Linked DNA regions of Homo sapiens. The protein of the gene in region 2 interacts with the protein of the main gene of each other region in a biochemical or structural test. Each region holds a gene or a part of one and is shown on either strand. Other genes may lie near its edges. The genes, in order: RHOG and MAP3K11.

What was found.
Region 1: the proteins of MAP3K11 (region 2) and RHOG form a complex in vitro, tested with the Homo sapiens proteins (one study listed by BioGRID).

The regions. Positions count from the first base shown.
Region 1 is NC_000011.10:3,828,399-3,830,959, forward strand, and holds part of RHOG (rho-related GTP-binding protein RhoG), read right to left. Parts: intron 1-2,561.
Region 2 is NC_000011.10:65,597,214-65,601,016, forward strand, and holds the end of MAP3K11 (mitogen-activated protein kinase kinase kinase 11), read right to left. Parts: intron 2,556-3,803; coding exon 2,181-2,555; intron 1,416-2,180; coding exon 1,078-1,415; 3' UTR 544-1,077; downstream 1-543. UniProt on the Homo sapiens protein: Activates the JUN N-terminal pathway. Required for serum-stimulated cell proliferation and for mitogen and cytokine activation of MAPK14 (p38), MAPK3 (ERK) and MAPK8 (JNK1) through phosphorylation and activation of MAP2K4/MKK4 and MAP2K7/MKK7.

The DNA.
Region 1 (2,561 bases), about 62 Mb from region 2:
GGTAGAAAGCACATAAACTCTGGCGCCAGACAAACTAAGGTCAAATCCTGATTTTGCTATTTCCTAGCTGTGTAACCCTGAAAAAATTGCTTAACCTCTGTATGCCTAAGTTTTCTTACCAGTAAAATGAGGATAAAATAATATCTACCTCACTGGGTCATTGTGAGCATTATATAATACATGTAAAGCATTTAAAACAGTGCCTCGTCCACAAGTATTAGCTATTTTTTTTTTTTTTTTTTTGAGACAGAGTCTCACTCTGTCACCCAGGCTGGAGTGCAGTGGCGTCATCTCGGCTTACTGCAAGCTCCGCCTCCTGGGTTCACGCCATTCTGCCTCAGCCTCTCGAGTAGCTGGGACTACAGGCACCCACCACCACGCCCGGCTAATTTTTTGTATTTTTAGTAGAGATGGGGTTTCACCGTGTTGGCCAGGATGGTCTCGATCTCCTGACCTCGTGATCCGCCCGCCTTGGCCTCCTAAAGTGCTGGGATTACAGGCGTGAGCCACTGCGCCTGGCCAGTATTAGCTATTTTTTTTTTCCAGGCTATACAGACACAAAAGGAGAGTGCACAAATTTAGGGATCTACTAGATCCTCTACTAAATATGGACCCTTTCCACCAGGAGACTGGAAAGTGTTTTGGCACAGGACAGCTGTCCCAGGTCACTCTGTGATGCAGCCATAAGTAGAACCTCTCTCAACTCAGGGCCCACCCTGCCCTCTCCAAACCTGGTATCTTGGCTACTGAGTACAAACCCAAAGGCACAGTTAAGAAACCTGCTGAGTAAGGGGCTCAATTCTTTAGAGAGCTGCCCTATCCCAATCCAGGGTATTCTGGCAATGGGGAAATTTTTTTTTTTTTTTTTTTTTGAGATGGAGTCTCACTCTGTCGTCCAGGCTGGAGTGCAGTGGCGTGATCTCAGCTCACTGCAACCTCCGCCTCCTGGGTTCAAGTGTCTCCTGCCTCAGCCTCCCGAGTGGCTGGGACTACAGGCAGGTGCCACTGCATCCGGCTAATTTTTATATTTTTAGTAGAGATGGAGTTTCGCCGTGTTAGCCATGCTGGTCTCAAGCTCCTGACCTCAGGTGATCTACCTGCCTCAGCCTTCCAAAGTGCTGGGATTACAGGCGTGAACCACCACACCTGGCCACCCCATCATTCTTGTAAGTACTGAAAACCCTATCTGGCCATGTACACTCAGATTGCCAATTCAATGCAGGGGAATACTGGAGATTCAGTTGGACCTGGGATTTGGACTGGGGTCTGGGTATGTTATGATGAATGAGGTAGAGGCTGAGGCTCCCAGACATTAGTATCTTCTCTCAAGGCCCTTGGTGGGGTGGAGCAAATTTTTTTCTTTTTTGAGACGGAGTCTTGCTCTGTCGCCCAGGCTGGAGTGTAGTGGCGCAATCTTGACTCACTGCAACCTCCACCTCCCGGGTTCAAGCGATTCTCCTGCCTCACCCTCCCGAGTGGCTGGGATTACAGGCGCATGCCACCACGTCCAGCTAATTTTTGTATTTTTAGTAGAGACGGGGTTTCACCATGTTAGTCAGGCTAGTCTTGAACTCCTGACCTTGTGATCTGCCCGCCTTGGCCTTCCAAAAAGTGCTGGGATTACAGGCATGAGCCACCATGCCCGGCCTGGAGCAAATCTTTCAGGCCCAACTAGGAAGGATGAAGTCAAGAGTAAGACAAAAACTTGACTTTCCCCTCAATCTTCTGTCCATTTCCTGAGATCCTGGCATGTGCCTCTGAAAGATTTTAGAGACTTCCAGACTCTTGGATAGAAAATACCATCATTAAGAACATAGATGCTAGAGTAAGACTCGCAGGTATTCTAATCACAGCTCCACCAACTAGTTATATGTGATCTTGGCAATATATTTGTTCCCTGAGCCTCAATTTTCTCATCTGTAAAATGGGGATAATCTTGCCTATTGCATTACAATTGCTCAGAATATGAAATGAGGCCAGGCACGGTGACTCATGCCTGTAATCTTAGCACTTTGGGAGAATGAGGCAGGTAGATCGCTTGAGCCCAGGAGTTTGAGACTAGCCTGGGCAACATGGCAAAACCCTGACTCTACAAAAAATGAAAAAATTACCAGGGTGTGGTGGTACACACCTGTAGTCCCAGCTACTCGGGAGGCTGAGGTGGGAGCATCACTTGATCCCAGGGTGGTCAAGGCTGCAGTGGGCTATGATCACACCACTGCACTCCAGCCTGTGCGACAGAGCAAGACCCTGTCTCAAAAAAAAAAAAATAAAAAGTAAGAGTTAATAATGTATAGAAGATGTCCAGCATGAGGTATGGCACATAGCAAGTGCCCAATAAATGGACTGCTGTATTTATGAGTGGGGTAAGTATGAGGAGTCCCAGCTCCAGCCAACATCTGGTTACCTCTGCAGGTCACAGGGCCTCGGGGAGATGAACTGCTTTTCTGAGTTCTGGAACACAGCTTCCAGAAACCCTGTGATTATTTACACTGCTATGGCAAGGATCCTTCTCTCATCAGCTACTTCCTCTTGGCCATGGGGGACTCTTGGTGGTCAAT
Region 2 (3,803 bases):
CTCAAAATCCTGACCTTGTGATCTGTCCGTCTCGGCCTCCCAAAGTGCTGGGATTACAGGCGTGAGCCACCATGCCCGGCCTATGGTTTTTTGTTTTTTTTTTTTTTGAGACGGAGTCTTGCTCTGTTGCCCAGGCTGGAGTGCAGTGGCGTGATTTTGGCTCACTGCAACCTCCACCTTCCAGGTTCAAGCAATTCTCCTGCCTCAGCCTCCAGAGTAGCTGGGACTACAGGCATGCACCACCACACCTGGCTAATTTTTGTATTTTTAGTAGAGATGGGGTTTCACCATGTGGCCAGGTTGAACTCCTGACCTCATGTGATCCGCCGGCCTCGGCCTCCCAAACTGCTGTGATGACAGGAGTGAGCCACTGCACCTGGCCGAGAAGAGCCTTGAATGACTGACCAAGGCTGGTGGATTTGGTCCCAGGAGAGGCATGCAGTACAAGGCATCCAACTGCCTATTGTTGGGGCATCAGGACACCAGGGTTGTATGATAGGTTGGGTCACCTGGTTACCTCCAAGAAAGGTGACAGGCTACATGTGGGGAGACAGCTTTTGAGTTTATTTGGCTTCTGGCTTCACTGGATCCCGAGGCTAAGACTCCAACCCTGGCTGGGGCAGCAGGAAGGCATCCAGAGAGCCCTGGCCCCAGATGACCCCCAGGGCAGGAGGTCCATGCTCTAAGCCCTAGGGCAGGGGCCGCAGTAGCAGGACTTGGTCAAAAGTGCTGGTGACAGCTGAGGCCGGCCCCTCTTCCCTGCACCTCCCCTCCTCCCTGCATCACCCCAGCAGGCAATTCCCTGAGACAGGCTCTGGTCCTCCCAACCAGCTGGGTACAGTGTTGGGCCCCAGTAGGGCAGGTGAGCTGGGGGGACCTACAGGTTTCAGATGTGGGGGCGCAGGTCCCCCTTCCAGTGTGAAGGCTTCCTGTGCAGTGTAGTGTTCCTGACCCCCAAAGGGGGGTGGGGTCCCTGGGGAAACTGAGGCAGCTGCAGAGGCTGACCCAGCTCCTGTTCCAGTGTATGCTGTGACTCCTCCTAAGGCAGCTGGAGCTCGGGGGAGTGGCCTGGCCCACTCAAGGCCCCGCTTCCGGCACCCACGGGGCCTGGGCACCCATGTCTTTGGTCTGTGCCCTGCAGTCCTGGGGGCCCCCCTGGAAGGGGTTGGCAGGTGGGGAGTCCCAGAAGGGGTCTGAGTCCGGGAACAAGGTCCAGGGTGCTCGGCGGGGTGCAGGCTGTGGTGATGGCAGGGGAGAAGGCCGTGGCCCAGCTGACACAAAGCTCCAGGGATCAATGCGGCTGCGAAGGGGCGAGGGCCGAGGTCGGCTGATGAGGCCCAGGGGTGGTGAACGTGGGGTGCCTGGGGTGCCAGGAGCAGAGCGTGATGTCCCCGGTGGGGGTGAGACAGTGCCTCCTGTGAGGATATAGGAGGGGCACAGGGTCAAGCAACCCCCAACTGCTGAGGTCCCCAAGACACTGTCCTGCTCTGGGCCTCAGTTTCCCCATGTGCACAGTGACCTACTTGACTCAACTTCCACCGCCCTTCCTGCTCCGTGGTGCCTCTGTTTTTTGTAATAGTTAGGAGTGAGGCCTCTGCAGCAGGCTGGCCTGGATGTGGATCCCGGCCCTGCCACTTACTAGCTGTGGGAGCTGTGGGTCCCTTAATCTCTGTGCCTTAAATTTCCTCATCTAAAAATGGGCATCCAGGAGCGCTTAGTTCTCTGGTTGTTATGACTAAATGAGACCATCTCGGGAAAGCCTTGCAAACAGTACTTGGCACAAGTAAGGAGCCAGGAGTTTGCTACGATTATGATTACATGTATGCTGTGTCGCCCAGGCTGGAGTCCAGTGTCATGATCACCGCTCACTGCAGCCTCAACCTTTCAAGGCTCACGTGATCCTCCCAGAGTGCTGGGATCACAGGCGTGCACCACTGCCTGGCCCGATTACTTCTTTTATTTCACAGCAGGCATCGCCCCCACCTGCCTGGACCACCTGATAGCTGAACTTAGAACTCTGCTCCCTACATGCGTCTTCAGTACCCCGAATGCCTGGTTCAGGGTCCAGCTGATGACTGTGGTCTCGGCCTTGCCTCCTTGCATGTCCCCACCAGCCACTCCTCCCTCCCTGGGAACCCCCGTCTCCCATATGTGAAGCAGGCCGGCTTCAGGCCACTCACCGCGGGGCTCCTCCTCACGTCGGGGGCTCTTGGCTGACCGCTGGCCCACAGGGATACCCAGGTCCAGCAACAGGGGTGCAGGAGTGGGCGGGGAGTCGGGCGTCTTGAGCGAGAAGCAGATGAGCGGGGAAGGGGGCGGCTCGGTCGGGCAGGGCGCGGGCGTTGGCGTGGGGGGTGTTGTCGGGGACTCCCCGCGCTCGCGTCCTGGGCCTCCCGGCGGCTGCAGGTCGCGGCCAAGGCCCAGCGAGGCGAGCAGGGCGGTGCCGCGCAGCAGCGCCCGCTGGATCAGCTTGGGCGTCCCAGAGCTGCTACCGCGCTCTGCGGGGACAGGCCTCTTGGGCTCCTCGGGCTCCAGGCTAGGCCGCGGGGGGTTACCTGCGGGCAGAGGCGGCACAGGTGAGGGTGTGGCTGGTGCATATTCCGGGTGAGGGCCCAAGACCTCTCCGTGGTCTTGGAACAAGGACTGAGTTCTGCCCTCTACTAGCATCTTCCCTGGTCCCACAGGTCCCATGGCCTCCCCATCACATACCCACATTCTGGCCTTTCACAAGATGGGCACTGGGAGGGGAGGGCAGTGCAGGTGGAGGAAGCGGCAGCAAAGCCCAATGGCAGCCAGCGACCCCAGACCCGAAAGATGGATGGGCAGTCCCAGTGGAGGCAGGCTGGGGCCAGGTCACAGTGGGCCTCTGTGGCCTGCCAGGGGCAACCTCCAGGCCCAGGGGCATGGCAGGTCCCACTGACTGGGACCGGCGCCCTGTGCTCTGTGCCCACCAGCTTCCTGGCTTGGCAGCCCTGCCCCTTCTGCCCACCCACCCCCGCTCCAGCTGTAGCTTATAAGATGCACACAGTCAACTCTAAGGTACATGGCAGCCCTGAGGGCATAAATCCCTGTCTCTATTCTAGAAAGGAGGAAAATGAGGTTCAGAGGGGTCAGTACCTTGCCCAAGGTCACAGCTAATTTACAGAGTATGTATTTGTGCCAGGCCTGAGCTGAATGGCATAGGGGCATTATGTTGTCTGATTCTCATGCCCCAGGGGTTCCAGGCTCAGAGAGGTTGAGGGCTTGTGCGGAGCTGTACAGCCAGTGAAAGGTGGAGCCGGCCTCACCCCAGGCAAGGGCAGTAGAACCTTTGCTCTCCACCATTTCCCAGCCAGACTCTGCCCTAGATTTCAAGACACTAGTGTCCTACCTTCCAGTCTAGGGTTGGCCTGACTCCATTCTAGACCACTTGGGCAGGGATGGGGAACCCCTCATTAAGGACAAGGGACTCTAGGATGGGCTCTCACAAGCCCTGATTTTGTCAGATCCCTCCTTGGCTCTAGAAACTGCTGTGGCTCTCCACTGTCACTAGGAGAAAGTCTGGCCTCCTTGGCTGGTCCTCTGAAGCCCTCCCTGGCCTTGTCCCTCTGCCTTTCCCCTCCTGCCTGGAGTGCAGCAGCAGGTTGGATGTCGGGAGGGAGAAATACAAGGCTGGGAAAAATGAGCTTCTACTATGAACCAGGACTTAGCTCACAGTCCCTTCTGTCAGCCCCAACCCTTACTCAGACTCTCTGCCTCTTACCTCACCCAACTCCCACCCCGGCCACTGCCACTGAAGGGACAAGGGAATCCTTCTAAAATGC